Linked DNA regions of Homo sapiens: region 2 is linked to region 1. The links come from fine-mapping of genetic effects on gene expression. Tissue or cell type: gastroesophageal junction. Region 1 holds a variant in brackets; the other region holds the start of a gene. All regions are shown on one strand. Distances are between the middles of the regions.

What was found. PIP is the estimated chance that this variant, and not a neighbour inherited with it, causes the effect. A credible set is the group of variants that fine-mapping cannot tell apart.
Region 2: SLC30A8 starts here. The variant in region 1 is the best candidate, but not a certain one, in a credible set for the expression of SLC30A8 in gastroesophageal junction (GTEx, PIP 0.67).

The regions. Positions count from the first base shown.
Region 1 is chr8:117,008,604-117,018,797 of GRCh38, forward strand. It overlaps a transcript of SLC30A8 not described here and the pseudogene RN7SL228P. Among named protein-coding and RNA genes, the nearest start is that of AARD, 75 kb to the left of the region's middle. The variant CCTT/C (reference allele first, on the strand shown) is at 5,685.
Region 2 is chr8:117,130,075-117,140,268 of GRCh38, forward strand. It overlaps SLC30A8 (solute carrier family 30 member 8), which reads left to right and starts at 4,921. Exons shown (of 8, transcript NM_173851.3): 1 at 4,921-5,324. The coding sequence starts at 5,254. The region is part of intron 6 of LOC105375716 (a long non-coding RNA gene); the gene reads right to left.

The DNA.
Region 1 (10,194 bases):
CTCTGCCATCTGAGGTTGCAATGAGTTTATAGATGTTCCTGACCTTGTTTACAGAGGTGGTGGCCATTCTACAATAAAGTACATGAGAACTATATCTATCTGTTGGGAAGGATCCTTTTACCTCAAGGCCCCCTTCTGCTTCAGGTCATGCTTTGTGTAGCCCAGTGTTGCCTTCAGCCCCAGAGCCTAGCCTGATGATACTCATGAGGTCAAGCATTTGTTTTGTATCTTAGTTTCTATTTCTTCTTAACCCTTATCAGCCCAGTGTTTTTAGGGTAGATGACTGTTATGTTAGGTAGGCCCACATCCGGAGTGTCTAGTTATGTGATGTTGGGCAATCTACCTATTTTTCTAAAACTCAGTTTCCTCCCCAGTAAAGATGGAATAATACAGGATTACTTGGGAATCAAATGAGATGATGTTTGTAAAGTATCCTGAACAAATAACTCTTCTACCAATGCTGGTTTCCCACCCTGTCCTTCTACTCAAGGACTTAGTAATCAAAATCCCCTGCTTAGAAAGTTGCTGATAAACTCAGTCATACTCAAACTAAACTGCTGGACTTCGATGGCTTAAAGAGTTTCTATTTCCTTGGAGACCTTTGACTGACGTTAAAAAAAGAATCTCTAATGGTGGAATTGCAAATACTCTTAAGTCAGTGAAGGGAGATATTTGAAAGAGCATGGGCCTTTTCTGGAACTCCAGAAATCATAACTTGGAGGCCAGAATTTCATATTGAAAAAACTGAGAGGGAAGAAAAAAAGACTATTTTCTGAAAATTCTAAAAGGACCAAATGAACTTGAATTGCCCTTCAAGAACTAGGTGAACAAATTGCTCTTTGTTTTTTGTCATTCTTATGTGATTTCTGTTGCAATTCAGTTTAAGATGGGGCATTGGCAATTTTGTGATCTTGTGACAAATCATGGGGACTCAATGAATATTAACAAATCCCCAGTGACCTGAGATTGCAGGACTCCATAGTTACTCTCAAAGGAAATAGTTTGTATCAAAACACTTTCTGATGTGAAGGCAGGCTGGGTTTTGTAAAACTTTGTAAAGGAGAAGCTGATAAATTCAGGCTGTTTATCAAACAGTTTATTTTGCTGGGGAGACAGAAAAGAGTAAACCAATATGATGAAGGCCTTCTTCTCAGCTTTGTAACAGAGAATATACAGTATTTACCTGGGAAGATTGTTGACTGGGTCCACAATTCACATAAAATTATGCAGGTTTTCTGAATATGTCATGGGAACATTTTTTGTCCTCTCTTTGGAAATTGCTCATTTTTAAAACTTCATGATTCATTTTGTAATATTTTTTCGGAGTGAAGCAGGCAAAGCCAACGCACTTGACTTGAAGAGGTTGCTTATGAGAAAGGTTTGAACAGCACAGGCTTTGAACCTGTCTGAGGTTGATTCCCTGGAAATGGACTCTGAGATGGAGTTTTGTGTATATGAGTTTTATCAGAGGGTAAGCCTAGGGACAGCACATGTAAAAAAATTGGAGGAATTAGAATTAGGCAGGGGAAGAAGTTTAATGGGGATAGAGTTGGAACAGAGGCCTCAGAAGACCCCATGAGAGCTTTGTTGTACTCTTCCAAACTGAGGCAAAGCGGTTAGGCTCTGGAACCACTTCTTATCAATGGGGCCTGACTTTGGGTGAGGGAGCTCCCTTTGTGGAGGGAAATTCCAGGAAAGGTCAGTTGTGAGTCCTCAGCAGACAAAGCTTCAGCCAGCTCCCACAGTGTCCAGAACAGGAGTCATACCCTCGGGTTAGAATCTGGCAGCTCCACGGCCTAGTAGTTGTGAGAATTTAAGCAGTTCATTTAAACCTCTGAGATTACCTCACAGGATGTTGAAAGTTCAATGAGTTTTACTGCTTAGTAAAGTGCCTAGAATTTAGGCAACGGTCGAAAAGCATTGTTATTATTACATGGTGCTTTATGAAAATTATTAGTTCATGTTTTTCTCCTGAGTTCTACATTCACAGATGTAATTGGTGACTGACGTCACTGTATTAGTTTGTTCTCGCACTGCTATAATGAAATGCCTGAGACTGGGTAATTTACAAAGAAAAGAGGGTTCATTGGCTCACATTTCTGTGGGTTGTAAAGGAAGCATAATGGCTTCTGCTTCTGGGGAGGCCCCGGGAAGCTTCCAATCATGGTGGAAAGTGGAAGGCAAACAGGCACATCTTATATGGCACAGCAAGAGCAAAAGAGAGATGGGGGAAGTGCTGTACACTTTTAAACAACCAGCTCTTGTGAGAACTCTGTCACAAGAACAACACCAGGCGGATGGTGCTAAACCATTAGAAACTGCCCCCGTGATCCAATCACCTTCCACCAGGCCCCACCTCCAGCACCGGAGATTACAGTTTGACATGAGATTTGTGCAGAGCCACAGATCCAAACCTTATCAGTCGTATATCTGGGTGTGCCACAGTTTCTTCAAATTCTATTCTACTACGCTAAACTCTTATCTACTTCATCCTCAGGCTACAGCCCGAGAGAACGAGGGTAACTCATAGGGAGAAATAGCCATAAGAACAGGAGCAAGAAAGAGAAGGGCAGTGGGGGAAGGGGATGCAGATTTTTGATGACATGGAGGAGCCCCTGAAACCAGATCCTCCCCTGGACTTTGCAGTATGTGAACCAACTCTCTTTTTGACCAGGTGGTTTTAACTGGGTTTATGTCACTTGTAATCAGGAGTCTTGACCAACGTTTCATTTTTCAGGTTGTGTCCTCTTTGCCTGAATGAAACTTATCATTTTAGTCTGCCCTCTTATTGCGAAGTTCCTTGAAATGCCAAATAGCTCGTTTGTGAAACTCGTAAGGTAAACTTGCAATGGAGTAGATAGTTTCCAAATTAAACACTTCTACCCTGTTCTATACCAACTCCTGCACCTGAGACAGAGAGAAGCCTAGAGAGAGCTGACAGCAGAAGTCACTTTTTGCCAGCCTCAAGGCTCTAGACTTGTTAATTTAGAGTTCGTGGTGGACCCTCTGTAATTTTGCACTATCCTTGGGCACTGCCAAAAATATAGCATTCAATTTTATTGTGCAAAAAGAAGCCAGGGGTGATGTTGGACCTCTTTGGGAAAAAGAAAATACTCAATCCTCCAAAACTTCTTAAAGTTTAATGGCATTTTGTTACATATTAATAATCATCTAATGGCAAATAACTTTTAACTACTCAATAAAACATAAGCAGGACTACTACGTGAGAAATATTTTGGAAGCTTCCAGTTTATGAAAATGTTAAGACAGTTATTTCAAAAGACCATGAGTAATGTGAATTTTATTAATTCAGAAGATTTTCTCATTCCATGCACTTGTTTCACAGTGGGTAAGTTTTACTCTTTGTAACATAATTCATACTGATTTCGAGCTCCTTGAGGATAGAAATTTTGTGTACTTAGCTTACTTTGAAAAGAACCCAGAATAATTCCAGATTGCTTTCTCCTCTGAACTTTTGTATTAGTTGCTCATTCAAAAGTTGAGCAACTAATTAGTTGCTCACATAAAACTCATTTTGTATTTAGCATATGCTGTTTGGAGTTTTAACTTTTTTTAAAATTTGAAGAGTATATACAAAATTAAAGATAGGTAAACAATACAGAGTTCCTTTCCTGAAAGTTCTTTTACTTCTTATTTTTAATGTGTACATTTTCTTTTGTTCAATGTTTTCTGTCAGTGTTATGCCATTTTAATGATAGCTAATTACAGTATTTTAGCAGTTAATCTTCCTAATTTAATTTTCTAATTCCAGACTTCCCAGTGAAGTCAACCAGTTGTGGATTGAAAATATTAAAAAAAAAATGTGTCCCTACTGAACACATACAGACTTTTGTCATGTCATTATTACCCATACAATACAGTATGACAACTATTTACATAGCGTTTACATTGTATTAGGTATTGTGTATAATCTAGAGATGATTTAAAGAGCACAGTAGGATGTGTGTAGGTTATATGCAAATACTATGCCATTTTATATCAGGAGTGTCCTCTGGAGTTCCTGGAGCCAATCCCCAAGGATACAGAAGGACGACTGTATATAAGTGTGTGTGTGTGTGCATGTGTGTGTGTGTGTTGTGCATGTACATAGACATATGTATACACACACACACACACACACACACACACACACACACGGTGGATCCTCAAATAGATTGTAGGCCTTTGAAGGCAGTCAGCATATATTTCTTATAATCTTATAATACTCTAGAGCCAATCATAATGCTTTTGCACTTCAGAGAAACTCAGTAAACAGTGTTTTAATTATAGTGGTCATGACAACAGTGTATCATCTGACAGCTCTAAGAAAAAGATCTAATAATTCACTATTGGCATGACTGCCTCATTCTAATGGGGCTACTTTTGATGAAAGAGCAAGCAGACCCTGGCATTTCCTCTGGCTTTCTCTGCAACTATTAATATTTCTTATACTTTCTTGGAGATTCATTACTACCTGTGTCAGGAGAGGTATAGCTTTGAGAATTCAATTGTGTGAAGAATGTTAGCAAAATGGATTTGTATTCCTTCAGCTCAAGGGTAGAAATGTCAAGAAATTTGGAAGATAAGAGGGAGTAGAGGCATGGACAATGAGGCACAAGGAAAAGCATAAGAATGTTTCTTTGCCATTTTAGCATTCATCTTTTTGTGAATTTTGCTTTCTGTATACAGCTCACCTTCCTCTGTTATCTGTCTCTACTGCATGATTCCTTCTCATTCCCACATTTGAAAGAGTTGTAGAAGGTAACAAGTATTTAATAACAAAAGACTGGGAATACAAGGACTGAGCAGCAGAGATGTTCAGTGGGAAATGTTATCAAATCATCTAGGCACCCCTTTTGAGCAGCACCTAGCATTGCTCTAGGGTAGATAAAAGAAGAAAATGTGGAAGTAAAAAAGAAAATAAAATATTAATATTCATTCATTTTTTTCTCAGTAAATTCTCTTGTCCACAATGTGTCAGGTATATTAGCACCTTACAGCTTAAAAATGACAACCATATATATACCTGGACTTGGTGGTGTCAAGCTTTGGGATGAAGATGGAAATCCTTCTTATGGGAGTCTAAAGGGGCCAAAGAATTATCTAGGAGGGACAGAGGTGAAGGAATGAAGAGTGTTTTCTTTCAAGTCCATTTTAATCCCTCTTTTTAACTTTGCTTTCCTATTTAACTTCATTTTTTTCTTAAAGATTTTAGTTTTACATAGAGATGTTTAAAAACAAAGCCTCTCTGTAGGTCATGTGAGAATATATTAATCATTATCAGTCATTTTTTTCAATGATAGCACATTTAAGGATAAATTGTTAGCCATTAAATTCATGAAATCCTTCACCCTTAATACAGAATCTTTAACTTAGAATATTTTTGAAAAAAGTGTGAAACAGACTATCAATATGTTTTCATTTAGCTCTTGGTGAACTTGGCATTGCTGTTTTATTTGGTTGGTGCAATAGTATTTGCAGTTTTTGCCACTGCGTTTAATGGCAAAACCGCAATTACTTTTGCACCAACCTAATATAGGGGCACATGAATGCTGAAGATGAGGGGATCAGTAATGATTCTGAAAAGGTGGTCAGATCCCGACTCACAAATAAATATTCCCATTAGTAACTCACTGGGGTTTCTTTTCAAGTGTTATCATATTAGCCTTTGGCTGCTGAACAGT[CCTT/C]CTTAGTTTCCAGAATGTGGCTGAGAGTAACAAGGGTGTAACAAATGAAGTCTTTACAAAGAATGAGCCTATCATCTTTGAGGAAATTCTCAATGGGTTGGCCAAGGAAAGAGAATGGCTGATGAGTCTGTGGTGGTGAGTCCCTATACCTTGATTCTATTCCTTCAATTGCCATGAGTTAGCTGTTTAAACATGATGCTAGTCATGCAAATATGCTGAGCATATTTAGATCTGAAAAATATAGGATGGTCTTTTTAGGTCCCTTTTGGACTTAAGGTAAATCAAGTGTGTGAGAGGATAGGTTGCAAAACAAGTACGTAGTGTTACTGAAATGGATCCAGTTTTAACTTACTGATGTCTTATCTCAGTTCCTTTCTCAGGGAACTGATCATCAGGCCTTCTGGCAAATATCAGAGAGCTGAGGCTTTCTATTGATAGGTCACTGCCCCTGGGAAATGAGATGCACCTACTGCCTGTTGTCCAACTCCCTTTTCTTACCCTTCCTCAGTTCCCTGCTATATAAACCCCTAACTTTAGTCTGTGGGAGAGGGATGGATTTGAGGTTTGTCTTCTGTCTCTCTGGCTGATGTCACATGAATAAAACCTTCTTCTCTGCTAATATCTGTTGTCTCAGTAATTGGCTTTGCGTGCAGCAAGCAAAGGGACCTAGACCGAACCCCTGGCATTTGGTAACATCACAACTATATATCTATATATATTACAAATATATATATATATAGATATACCGAGAGCTGAAACCAGAATTTGGGATGAAGGTGGAAATTCTTTTTAGAGGCTGTTGAAAGGACAAGATGTTGGTGAGGGGAGCTTATAGGAAACTGCGTGGCACAAACAAGAGGATTAAGGATCTTTCTATCAACCATAAAACTTCTTAAAAGTTCCCCGCTATCTGACTTTCTTTATATGTTCTACACCACATAGAGATTTAGGACAAAAAACCATGTATCATTATTCCAAGGAAAATACGATGCCAGTCACCTTACAATGAAACTTAGCAAACAGCCCATTCTTATAGTTTCCCTCTGCTCAGACACACAAACACATACACCTGTGCTTTGTTTACTCTTATTTTCTGCTGTTCATTTTTCTCCATGGTCCATTCCAAGATAAAGGTCCTTTGAAGGTGGAAAAAAATATCTGGTTCATCTTTGTCTTCTTAAAGCTGCATTTCCTAAAGTGGGTCCAATGGGAAACATTACAGTAATAAATTAGATGCTATTATGCACCCCCCCCCCCCAAAAAAAAGAGGGCGAGGGAGGGCTTTGTGTCAAACCTGTTTGTGAAACAAGAAGGGGACATAGAATACAGGGTTTTCTGCACAGAACGCTTTCCCACCCACCTTTTTTTTCTGGAGGGGAGCATTTTTCCTCATGACATCTGTCTTAGGATCAGTGTTTGTTGGGACTCACTTTGTGACACAGGCCTAAAGTAGGAAACTTTGTAGTAAGCAGAAAATAATAAATATAGCAGATGACTCTAAGCCATATGTTTTTCTCTTCAAATGATCCTAATTGGTGTTATGCTTTATTTCACTGGTGTTTTACAACCTGGTACATTGGGGAGAGCCACAGGGTCATTTATTGAACATTCAGAACAATGGGCAGAAGTACTTGTTGAGTAGGTTAACTTCTGCCACAAATGACAGGTGTGTCTAATGGTTTGGGAGAAGGGGAAGGAGAAGCAGCAATGGAATGCGCTTGAATAAGAAGGAACAAGAGCAAACGTTGGTAAGAGAGAAGGGGGATAATACCGGGCATAAGGTTACTTTCAGCCAGGTGAATCAGTCCTGGAGAGGTCACCTAGGCTGTCTGTTTAGACCAGGCAGAAGAAACTAGAAATCCAGAAATCCAAAAACTGGGATATTGAAGGGAAAAAGGGATAGGTTCCCAGGAAAGTAGTTTGTGGAAGCTAGGTGTTGTTTTAACCTTGCGCACAGAAAATGCTCAGTAAATAGCCTTTGAAAAATGGACACCAATGGATAATAGAAGTCGATATTGAATCAAAGAGTTTTTGAGTTAGGTGGTTTCAAACATTCTTTCTGCTGAGGATCAGATATAATGTCAGACTATAGTTGGGCTGGGCACTGCAGAAAGAGGAAAATCAAGTTAACGAAACTGAGCAGGAAAAGACAGGGGCAAAGAACAAGGCAGCTATCAACTCCAGGCTGAGGTGCCAAATAAATACATCTCTCTCAAGTCTCTCATTTCTCCTGTTGAAATGCACGCTAACAGCTGCTAGTTTAGTATCCACTTTGGGTTCCCTGTTTAGTCACTGAAAACAAATACTGTCATCATTTCAGCAGAGAATATCTGTAGATAGCACATATTTTATATATATTTACATAGCAAGTTTACAGCTAACAAAAGATTGCTCTGATGAATATACAAGGAGAGAGATTAAAATGTACAAATATGCTTAGAGCTTAAGAGAAAACATTTACCTCATTTTCTTCCTGTCATGAGGGTAGACGCTTAAGACAGCATGAAAAATAGTGATTCTTTCTCCATTTATTCTGAAGCTTTCTCCATTGTTATGATGATACTGCCATTCACATTTTAAACAGATTTTTAAAAGATCTATATTTCTAATTCACGTTATGTTATATTCATCTAGCATGCTCACAACAAGATAAAGCTAATAAAATCAGGGAAGATCGTCGAGGTTTAAGGTATAGTAAGGTGGTTAAGAGAGTTAGAGTGCCTGGGTTTGTATCCTGGCTCTGATGCTTGATACTGTGTGACCTTGGGTAAGTCACTTTACTTTCTGTGCCCCAGTTATTTAATTTGTAAAAGGGGGGAAATAGTGTCTCATTTATAGGGTTATTTAGAGATTAAATTAGTTAATATATGTGAGGCACTAGAACTGTACCAGGCACAAAGTAAATGCAACAGAGTACTAATGTTGGCTATTGCTGCTGTTATTAATATTATTATTAAAGATCATAGTTACAGGGCCCAGTGGCTGAGGGTGGATTTGTGGTTTTCTCTTGTGTTCTAATATCAACCTGCTCTCAAGCACTTTGCTTCAGTTTCTGAAGTTGCCAAATAATATTAGAATACAAGGTTTCTTCATCCCTGTACTTAAATTTTATCTCAGTTGCAACAGCATTTCATTTCTGTATTTTCTATGTTTGTAGTGCTTTCTCTCAGTCAAAATATTTGCTAAACACTTACTCTCTGTCTGGCATAGTTTTTGGCCCAATAGAAGCAAGGCACCAGCCAACACCAAAGTCAAATTGACGTGGAGCCACAGTGAAGAGGATGTGAAAGGGCCCTGCACTTGTGGAATTGACACTAGTTCAGGCAGGTGGAGAATAAGTAAGGAAAGAAGCGAATACAACAATTTCAGAATACCTGTGAAGAAAATGAGGCATTATATGAGAGTGACTAAATGAGGCAGAGAAATTTAACTTTTATTGGCTGCCCAGGCCATGGAAGACCTTGCTGAGAAGATTCTGGGTTGGAGGAGAAGATTCAGAAGAGATGAATTTCTTTTTATTAATGAGTTCATTTAGGATGATGGCTTTCTGCCCAACAGGGAAGTTATCTAGACTCGTCCTGTCCCATAGAAATAAAATGTGAGCCACTTATATAATTTTGAGGTTTCTTGTAACCATATTTGAAAAGTTAGTAGAGCTGGGCATGGTGGCATCTGCCTGTAGTCCCAAATACTTACTGGGGAGGCTAAAGTGGGAGGATCTTTCCAGTCCAGGCATTCTGGGCTATAGTGCACTATGCTGATTGGGGTCCACACTAAGTTTGGCATCAATATGGTGACCTCCCTGGGAACAGAAAACCACCAGGTTGCCTAAAGAGGGATGAACTGGCCCAGGTCAGAAACAGAGTAGGTCAAAACTCCTATACTGAACAGCAGTGGAGTTGCACCTGTGTATAGCCACTGCATTCCAGCCTCAGCAACGTAGTGAGACCTTGTCTCTTATAAATAAATACATACATACATACATACATACATAAAATTGTAAAAGGTAAGAAGAATTAGTTTTAATAATATATTTTAACATAATATATCAAAAATATTATTTCAACATGTAATATGAAAAATCATTGAGCTATTTTATATTCTTCTTTTTTTTACTAAGTCTTCAAAATCCATAATGTCTTTGATGCTTATTCAGCACATCTCAATTGGACTTACCACATTTCAAATGCTCAGCAGCCACAGGGGGTTGGCGCCACCATGTTTGGATAGCACCACTGCCTTGATAGCACTGCTGTGTTGGATAGCACCACTGTGTTGGATAGCTACACTGTGTTGCATAGCACTGTTGCGTTTGATAGTGTTGGCCTAGACCACAGGTTGAAAACTGCGGCCTGTGGGCCAAATCTGACTAGCCCCCCCCCCCCTTTTTTTTTTTGATGGAGTCTTGTTCTGTTGCCCAGGCTGGAGTGCAGTGGTGCAATGTTGGCTCACTGCAACCTCCGCCTCCTGGGTTCAAGCGATTCTCCTGCCTTAGCCTCCCTGGGAC
Region 2 (10,194 bases), 120 kb after region 1:
ACAATTGGATTAGCAGCATTTTAAACTGTAGACTTACTGGAAGCAAATTCACTAATACCAAAAGAAGAGATGAATTAGTTGTAACGCCTTGTGGTTGTGCTTCCAAGCAGGAAAGACAGCTGCTGTCCCTTGATGCATTTTGGATTCAACGTGAAAAGCAACGGTTCAGTCTTTCATGGGAAAGCTCTGAGGAAGCTTTGTCTTGTCTCCTGGACTATCTCCTGAGAGAAAGTATTGTCAGCCAGGAGTCAAATAAAGCCAGGCCTGGAGATTCAGAGGAGACGATGAGCTTTGCCTTTGCTCTGTTGGTATTCATCTGGGAATGCTCTGTGAAAATCCATTTCCCAAAGATGAATTATGATCCCCTAAAACCTTTCACTGAAGGAAAATAAACAGTGCTCATGAAAATTAAATGGTGGCATTCCAGATAATGACAAGAGGGCTCTATTATTATTATTATTATTAAATTTGAGCATTTAATGTTTTAGTCTTCAGTGATGCTCTGTGCATTTATAGACCAAGGGGTTGGAATATTAGAAAGTATATTTTTGTCTACTTTTCTATTCTAATCTTTAAAATAATGGATAGGTTCTTTGTAATCCTCTCTTGCCTTTTTATATAAATAAAAAGACATATAGTTGTGAGATTATGAAGCCAAAAGGCCATTGTTTTGGAGTTTGTAAGAAATAACAACCATATCTCACCTAGAGGGCGTTTTTGAGGGTTAATTAGTTCAAATTTGCAAGTGCTTGGAAAAAGAAGTGTGGTATATGGAGAAGAATTGAAGAAATATACACTTCATAAACACTTCAAGCAGCTAGCCCCAATATTTCTCCCCCCAAAAATAATGCTAGTTCATTTTTCTGTCATTTATTTGCATCTATGAGACTTAATAAAATATTTCTTTTATTCTTTTAGTATCAATATTTTATCAAGTCTTTCTATTCTTAACAAATACAAATTGCATTTTCACCAGAACATTCCTATAGCTCAATCGCTTGAAAAATAGAAATAGTAAAAAAAATTACATGGTCCTAATTTATCAAGAAGGAAATAAACATCATATTGCTTTCGGTCCATTTTCAAGCAGTGTATAAAATATTGGAAATGGTTTGTGTTTTATACATATTTACTTTAGATTAAAATAAAATTTTCATAATGCTCTCTAAAATACAATCCAATTAAATTTCTAATGTCTTTGTTTTCACATTTCTAGATGAAACCTCTGAAATACTCACACTGTAGTAATAACCATAAAGCTACCTTGCTAAGAAAATACTACTCAACTTAGAAATAATAAGATCTTTATAGTTATGTGAGAATGCATGAGTCCAGAATCTTTAGTGGGTGATTACACTGGTTGAGTTTGAATTGCCTCCCCTGTTGTGGAAGACAGCTCCATAGTGAAGATCATTCTGAATGGCACTCTACTGGTGAGGGGGTAGAATGAGGCAGACATCAATCTAATTTGAGAAAGTAGAGTCCAGAGGGTTTGAGAGATCTACCCAAAGTCATAGAGCCGATAGCTGAAGTCCCCAGATCTTCCTTTTTCAATAACCTTTATTTCCTTGATGGATGCTTCATTCACAGGTAATTCTTAGCCTTCTGCTAAAGCTGGAGCCAATTTCTCAGCAATAGCCAAAACATTTTACTTAGACATGGCCCAGTGTATAGAAACTCACAGTTACATAAAACTGGTTATATATCAGAGACTATGCTAAGAACTTTTATACATATTATCTGTTTTCCTCTTCACAAGAACTCTGTAAGATGGATTCGATTAATACTCCCATTTTACAGGTGAGAAACGGAAAAACACAGTGGTCAGGCAACTTGTTCAAGGTCACATATCTAAGAAAGTGGTCAAACTGGAAACTAAAATTGTCTACCTAACTAACTTGAAAACCCATATATTAAACCACTTCACCACACTACCTCTCCACACCAACAGGAAAAAGCAAAACATGATGAAAGTCCACATTTGTTATTTAAAAACAGGCACATTTCTATGTCTGATTTAAAAAGATGGTTGCATGCACACATTGGCAACATGAAGTATTTCTGAAATACGAGTTTAAATATGGGGAACACAAATTGTAAGTACTTGGTACTTTAGTATCTAGGGATAATGATGGTAGCTTTTTATAAATCCATATGTCCTTTCTACAAGTGAAATATCCAACAATGTTTAAGATACTTGTGAAATTATTTTTGCACAAGTATTAGCTACTGTTTGTAACACCCTATTAAGAAATTGTTGCTGACAACAGCTAGGACTGAAGAGCCAAACCAGTTCTTCAGTGATGTTGGTGATGTTCTTGTGGCTGACAGAATACTTATTTCCACAGGTAGCTGTTATAGATTGTGTGTTTCCCATTCAGTTACTCCAAGCTTGTGAAGGAGAGTGGGCGGAGAAGACAACCTGTAATTCGGGATGGTTTGGAAGCTGGTTGCCTAGGAAACTGAAATGAGCAGCGTAATGCCCACTAAAACCAATGTCTACAGGGGATGGGATTTTCCTTTTTGATCCAAGTTGCTTTCCAAATATATATTCTATGCTGCTTGTGGAGCCCAGTTAGGCCGTTGGCCCTTGGTGGGCAGTTCATGCCAAAGTAGACCAAAGGTTTGTCAGGGAGGATGAGAGATTTTTCATAAATGTTGTGATGACAAAATATTTGAGAGAGGGAATGACGGTGCAGTTAAAATGAACTTGTAAGAGAATAAGGTGATCAGCAGATGCATATTTTACATGATATAATATGCAATTCTTGATCATAACATCTGCATCTAAATTTATGGCAGCAAAACTTTTTAAGCATAATTTTATTTGCTGTAATCTACTGTTCTCTGTTCTTATGCTACTCACACTGGAAGCTTTGCTTTATGGTAATCATCTTCAAGAGTAACTTTTGGGATTCATAAATCTTTGATGAAAATCATAATTAATTTCCTAGTACTTTATAAATATGTACATTTTTATTAGTAAATGTAACATACATATCCACACATATATTTTAGGTATCTATATATGTGTGCATGTATATTTAAGTTGAACCATATAAAATTGCTGATATTAGACCACATAGGACTTATATAGTTTATCTTATAGACAAATAGAAGAGATCATAGGATACATTTTTGACAGGGGGTAGCAGTATTTTTTGTTGTTTTGCTTGGGTCTCTCATTGTCTCTTTTCCCATCTTCACTTTTCCCTGTCCTACATCAACCCCATCCTACTCTCACTTTATTCTTGCCCCATAGGCAATCCACATTAACTACCTGGCATGTATCCTTCACACTCATTATAAATTATATGTCAATTATGTATGTATGTATGTCAATTATAAATAGATCTGTACATCCGTATTTGTACTAGAGGCAAAGTTCGCATGGAGGAATCTCAAACTTCCAGATTGTTTATTTCCTGTTGATATCTATAGCCAAATATTCTCCTTCCTGATTTGAAAATATTGCTTATCTCTTTTTTTTGTACTCACCCTTAATGAATTTCAGGCTGATTTAAAGTAGTTTCCTCATTTTCTGACATTCATTCACTTGAATTCTATTTCTCTTGTCTGTGCTAGAAACTATTCACAAATGATTCAAGCTGTGACATATGGCAGTGTGTCACACAGGTGGATTAGTAATTCTTTTCTGGTTTTCTACTTTCGCCTCCACAGAATAACTGATTACTTTGTAAGGTTAAGAGTAAGAATATACGAGAAAAAATACATTGGTTTTTATTCTGCTAACAGTAGACCCAGGATTTCAATGCCTTCACTTGCAAGGAAAAGGCTCCCCCAGAGCCTCTTAGAGGCTCCAAACTGTGTGAGCAAAGTTAAGGATCAGTAAGAGTGGGGTCATATGAGAAGACCTTAGAATTTATGTTATAGATGAGAGTGTTTGAAATCTTAAGATAATAAGAGGTACAGCTACACCACAGATGTGATAGGAGACCTAATAGTCTCATTCTGAACCAAAGGTGACTTCTCCTGTCACTGCCTATGACAATTGGCATTGAACCCCATCCTCCTTTTAGAGCACAATATTCATTTTATTAGGCCATTGTGAGAGATCTCAGCTCAGCATAATGGGCAACTTCCCGTGACTCTGGGCCACTGGGTTATTCTGGGACTTAACTACTCTGAGTTTTCTCACTAGAAAGTTAGTGTTCACACAAGGAAAAGGCAACAAGAACCTGGTGGTCTGGGGTTTACTCCTGTTCTCCAGTCTGCACAACCCCCTCTTTCTCTACCGTTGTGTACATCTTTATAGGTCTTGAAACCTTTTGCCCACACACAAATGCCTACTGTTTGTCCAGGCTCTTGCCATAAGGCTATAGTTCTTTCTCTTATTTGGGAAGGAAAGTGCTTTGTATGAAGTAAAATGCTGATTCCTAGGAGTTGAGGAGTGTGAGGTCTCCCAGGAGCAACTCAGAGGCTTCCTTCCTCGGAGCTGGAACTGGCATGCCTGATAGGGTTTCCTTGGGTGAATCCTTGATCCTTAGTAGAGGGTACCTTGGCCAGGAAGAACAAAGCTCACTCTGGTTCTTGTATTTTGGAGGGCTGTTATTTACGTAGAAGCAGAGTCTGTCCTTCTCTTGCCAATCAAAAGGATTTCAAAGCTGCTGTACCAAGAACTGTTTTCAGATTACTGGTTTCAGAAACTATTGACCCTTGTCCTCCCTTTCAATAGTGAAATCCCAAAATGGTCCTAGGAGAGACAAGTAAATTCTGACAGCTGCTTAGAGGTCATCTTAGAACTAAATTCCAAAGAAATAATTTTAGGCTGATAAAGAGTCCAGAAAAAGGAGGAGGGAGAGAAAAAGAAAGAATTAGTTTAGTGTAGCGAATGGTAGCTATTTGCAGCTCACCCACGTGTGCTCCGAAGGTCAAAACCCTACATCAGCAATTTGTAGCAAGCTCTTGAGCTCCTCTACCTCTTAGAAAGCACAATTGAATCAGATATCATATGAAAGACATACACACTTCATGTAATGCTACCTGCAAGTCTCCCTAGAAAAGCAGTTTTTGTAGGTGAAAACAATGAAGCCAGGTAATATTGCAAGGAGGCTGTAATTTTAGCAGACCTACCAACAACACTGATGTAGGAAGCTCATTATTTTAATTTCTGGAGCCTTTTAATTTTTTCTTTAGAAAGTGTATAAATAATTGCAGTGCTGCTTTGCTTCCAAAACTGGGCAGTGAGTTCAACAACAACGACAACAACAGCCGCAGCTCATCCTGGCCGTCATGGAGTTTCTTGAAAGAACGTATCTTGTGAATGATAAAGCTGCCAAGATGTATGCTTTCACACTAGAAAGGTAATAGATGTCTGTGTCTGCTTCACAATTTTCTCTGTTGAATATCATCCAATTCCTATACCTTGTTGCTTCTGAATTGTAGGCCTTTACTCTGCAACTTGGGGGCACTCTGGAACATTTTATAAGTTGTTGACTGACATGTATTTTATATTCTGAAAAATGCAATACTTTATATAGTTGATTTGATTCCTTAAATATCCTAAGTGCATAAAGAACACATTTTACTGATGTGTTTTTCATCTGTCATGTTTATTCCAGAAAATAGACCTATATAATCTGTTTACTTTTCCTTTTCTCAATTATTCTCAATTTTAAGATAGATAGTAAATTTTATTATATTATATTTAGAAAAAGTTAAGACTTCAGCTACATGGCAAAATTGTGGTTGTATTGATCTTAAAATGAGCTGTTGTTTTCATGCTTATAAAGTATCATTATTAATATACATACCTATAACAAATATAGCTGATTTTAATGTTCTACAAAGTATTCCATTTCTTTTTAATGTCTCCCACAGTGTCACATGCAATACATTCATTCATTTTTCACTTGGTTAACAATTATTGATTGAACACACCTGTAGTAAGTGCAGAACTTATAATGAGAAAGAAAAAAATGTCTAGTTTCAGATCTTTGTCCTCTTGAAACTTAGTCTAATGTGAAATACATATTAGAACTAGGCAATTACAAAACAGTGTATTTGTGTCATATTGAGGGTGTTCAATAAGAATAACTGGACTTTGGAATCAGAGGAAGCTTTCTCAGAAGTAATAGGCTAAGAGCTAAAAATAAAAAGGAATTAAAGTAGGGTTAGGGATAACCTACATAGAAAATAGTTTTAAGGAAAGTTTCCCAGACTTCGATAATTGCACAGTAAATATACTTTCACATACATAAGAATGTGAGCTTGGTTTGTTTGAGGAGTTGAATCTGAATGGGGTTCAAAAAAGGAACACATTCAGTGAATATAAATGAGCTAATGAAAATCTGAAAAGAATTGATGTTAGAAGAAGAATTTAAGAGAATACTTGCCCATTAATAATACGTGTAATGTTCTTGTTTGTTTCACAAAGCCAAACTAATATTCTAAGGAGTAGTGATACTATGTTTGGGAGCATCAAATATTTTAGTAACAGCAAAGAGATTTTATAAAAAGGATATTTATAACTTGGCTTAAAACAAAGAATCTAGCAATCTCACATTAGAAGAATTATTTTTCTTAGAAAATAATATTAGATATGATGTATTGAGGTTATTAACATAAAAAACAAAGCCTTGTGGTAAGTCAGGCAGAAGTTTTGGACAAAAAATTGTTAACCCTATGGATACTATCAATAGAGCATCTCCACATTACTGAAATAACAATATTTCCCTTCTTATTAACATAGACTATTAGCATTTTGTTGCACAAATAAGCCAACCACTTATAGTTACAAAGTCTCATTCACCCCATAAATAGGTATGGTTTTCAGGACACAGTGTTTATAAGAATTGTCAAACTCATTTGTATTTTCTTGTCAAGGGAAATAAATTAAATCTGGAAGAGATTATTTATCTCGATCCCTCATTTTACCATGTAGGAAACTGAATGCCAGATAGAACAAATGCCTTTCTTGAGGTCAGAATAAATGTGTTTCTTGAGGGCAGATGGCTAATTACAACAGAACTGGGCTGTGGACCCAGGCCCCCTTCTTGTTAATTTAGTGTTCCCCTTCTCCGTCTACATCTCCTGTACCCATACATGCACCATGTGGGCTCCTGAATCCTTAATCTATCTCCTCCTTAGGTCACATGTCCCTGAATTCCCTCACTTACTCACTTCTTCCCCCACCTCTACCAATCTATCTCATTTATTTTGTTCTGTCTCTATTAGTTGTGGATAACTTTATCCCCTGATATTCCTCCTCTTTTCTCCTTCTACCTCTTTTTCTTTCTACTTTCTATTATCAGCTTTCTATTTAAATGGTTACTGGCTGTTAAGAAACTTACTCTGAAGAAAACTTTATTATCTAATTCCACAAATGGAGTGTTCCATTTATCTATGGCTGTGCAACAAACTACCCCAAGATGTAGTGGCTTAAACAACAACTATTTTATTACGATTCTCTGGGTCAGGATTTGGGCAGCATTCCATGTGAATTAGTTGGAATAGAAGGCTGCATTCTGCTGGTATCTGGGCTAGGCTAGAAGGTTTAAGATGGCTTCACTCACATGACTGAGATCTTTGTGTTGGCTTTTGCCTGGGGCGGGGGTCTTAATTCTTCTTCCCATGGCTTCTCTCCCTGTATGATGTCTCACTTTATCTGGTTAGCCTGGAATTCCTTATGTGACAGTCCAGAGTAGCAAGAGAGCAATAGTGGAAGCTGACCATTCTCAGATAGCTTAAGCCCAGAACTGGCACAGTATCATTTTTATCACAATTTATGGGTTAAAGCAAGTCCCAAGTCTCAGATTCCATGGGTGAGGCAATAGATTCTATCTCTTGATTGCATGTGCATATTGGATGACAGGAATTGCTGGAGGTAATCTTTACAGGCATTTTACCACAGGAAGTAGTAATATTGGACCCAGTAGGTGCCATGAACCATATTTTTTTACCCTCTCCATTCTCTCCAAATCTGTTTCATTGGTGGGATTCTCTGGGCTTTGGGTTCATTGTAGCAAAAAAAAAAAAAAAAAAAAGAAAAAGAAAAAAAAAAGTCGTGTAAAGTTGAACTACAACACGAAAAACAATCAATGTTTTTCTTGGTGCTAGGTGGAAGGGATCAAGTTTCTCTTTTCCCCAAGCCATATGTTGAAGAAGTGCAGAGGAAGTAAGGGCAGGAATAGATGGTAGAGGTAAACTGCTAGAACCTTTACAACAACTATTTAACTGCTAAAAATTATAAAAAAGAAATGAAAATCTCTGGAAGTTGTCTTAAGGGCATGCAGAAAATTAATAATTATTTATTCAAGAAAATCTAAATCTCAGTAAGAAGTGAGCGTCTATGGCATTTGAGCCAAGATCTGCTCCATTAACCTCTGTTCTTCCCAAGCTCAGTATGATGAGAGCTCAACTCTGAGTGGATGTAGCCAAAAGACTGGGCTCCCTCTCCTCCCAGCTTCCAGTTAAAGATCATAGTTCACCCCTAGAGCAAAAGGCTGTTGGAATCTCTTATTGTCCCAGCTTCAGGTTGCAGAAATTCTATTCATTGTAGACAGGACCAAGAGGACTATGGTTTCCTTCCTCTACCCAGCCTCCTCTCATAGGGTATAATCTCTAGCCCAGGAGCAGCAAGGTCCTGAATATCCCTGCCCTGGATCACTCATAGTGTATAGGATGTATTCCAGGAGGCATAAGCAAAAAAGACTAGGGACTACGATCCGTATTCAGTGCTCCACTTGTGGAGCAAGAGTATTGCTCCAGGAGAAGTAGGTCACTGTCTCTTCTGCCAGCTCTGGTGCAGTGGTGTAAAGGTACTACTCATAGGAGAGGCAGGCCATAAGAATAGAGGGCTATGTATCTTTCCCTTAGAAGACTGATGATACATAAGCTGGAATTTTATTTGTAAGACAGCATAGGGTATTTCAAGCATAGGGACACTGTTGAAAACAATGAAGATTCTTCTGGTGGACAATTAAGAGTAGGCTTGTTGCTTCATGATAGCAACAAGATAGTGGCAGACCAGCTAGAAGTTAAGCAAAGACAGGCAGAAAAAGAGGTAAAAAATGCCCTCTTGGATTTGGCACTAGCCACAAAATTTGGCCTCAAATATTACCCCTATAAAGAAGCCTGTTATAGATTGAATGTTTATGTCCCCCACAATTATATGTTGAAGCACAAATGCCAGTGTGGCTGTATTTGGAGATAGGGCCTCTAAGGAAGTAATTAAGGTTAATTGGGGTTATAAGAGTGGGGTCCTGATCTGACAGAATTAATGTTCTTATAAGAAGAGACTCCAGATAGCTCACTCTCTCTCTCTTTTTGGGTGCACACACTAAGGAAAGACCACGCGAGGAAGTAACGAAAAGGCAAGCATCTATTAGCCAGAAAGAGAACCCTCACCAGTGAATTTGCTAGCAGCTTGATTATGGACTTCCATCCTCTGGAGCTGTGAGAAAATACATTTTTGTTGTTTAAGCCACACAGTCTGTGGTATGTTGTTATAGTAGCTGAAGCAGACAAATTTAATTGGATCAGATTGTTGGTCAATTCATACCTCAGGGTATTATTGAAAACCATAGAGCAACAATTCAGCAAACAATTAAGAAGGCCAAAATCTGGGTGTGATACCAACACAGGCAGAACAATCACTTAACAGTGAGATAGTGGAAAGAAACAGTCAAAGTGAACACTACTAAAATGATTATTATCCCTTGGAAATGGGAGAGGATAAGAAAGACTGCATCTACCCAATGATGCACCTTCTGAGGAATGGCAACAGAGGCTGCGCATGCAGGGAAAGTCAGACAACATCTGGTAAAAAAAAAAAAAAAAAAAGTAGAAACAGTCCAGGTGTTGTATTTAGAATTTGAATATTTCAAAACAGCTATTATAACTAGGTTAAAAGAATTAAAGAAAATCAAAGAACAAAGAATTAAAGATAGATATGATTTAAAATGTCTCATAAAATTGAGAATATCAATGAAGAGTTAGAAATTATTTTTTAAAAAAGAACCAGATGAAAATTCTGAAGTTGAAAAGTACAATAAATGAAATTAAAAATTCACTAGAGGGGTTCAACAGTAGAGCTGTACTCATAGAAGCTGGCAGAAGAAAGAATCACTGAACTTGAAGATAGATTGGAAGATATTATGCAACATGAAAAACAGAGAAAATAGAATGAAGTAAAAAAATCAACAGAGCCTCAGAGAAATGTGGTACATTGTT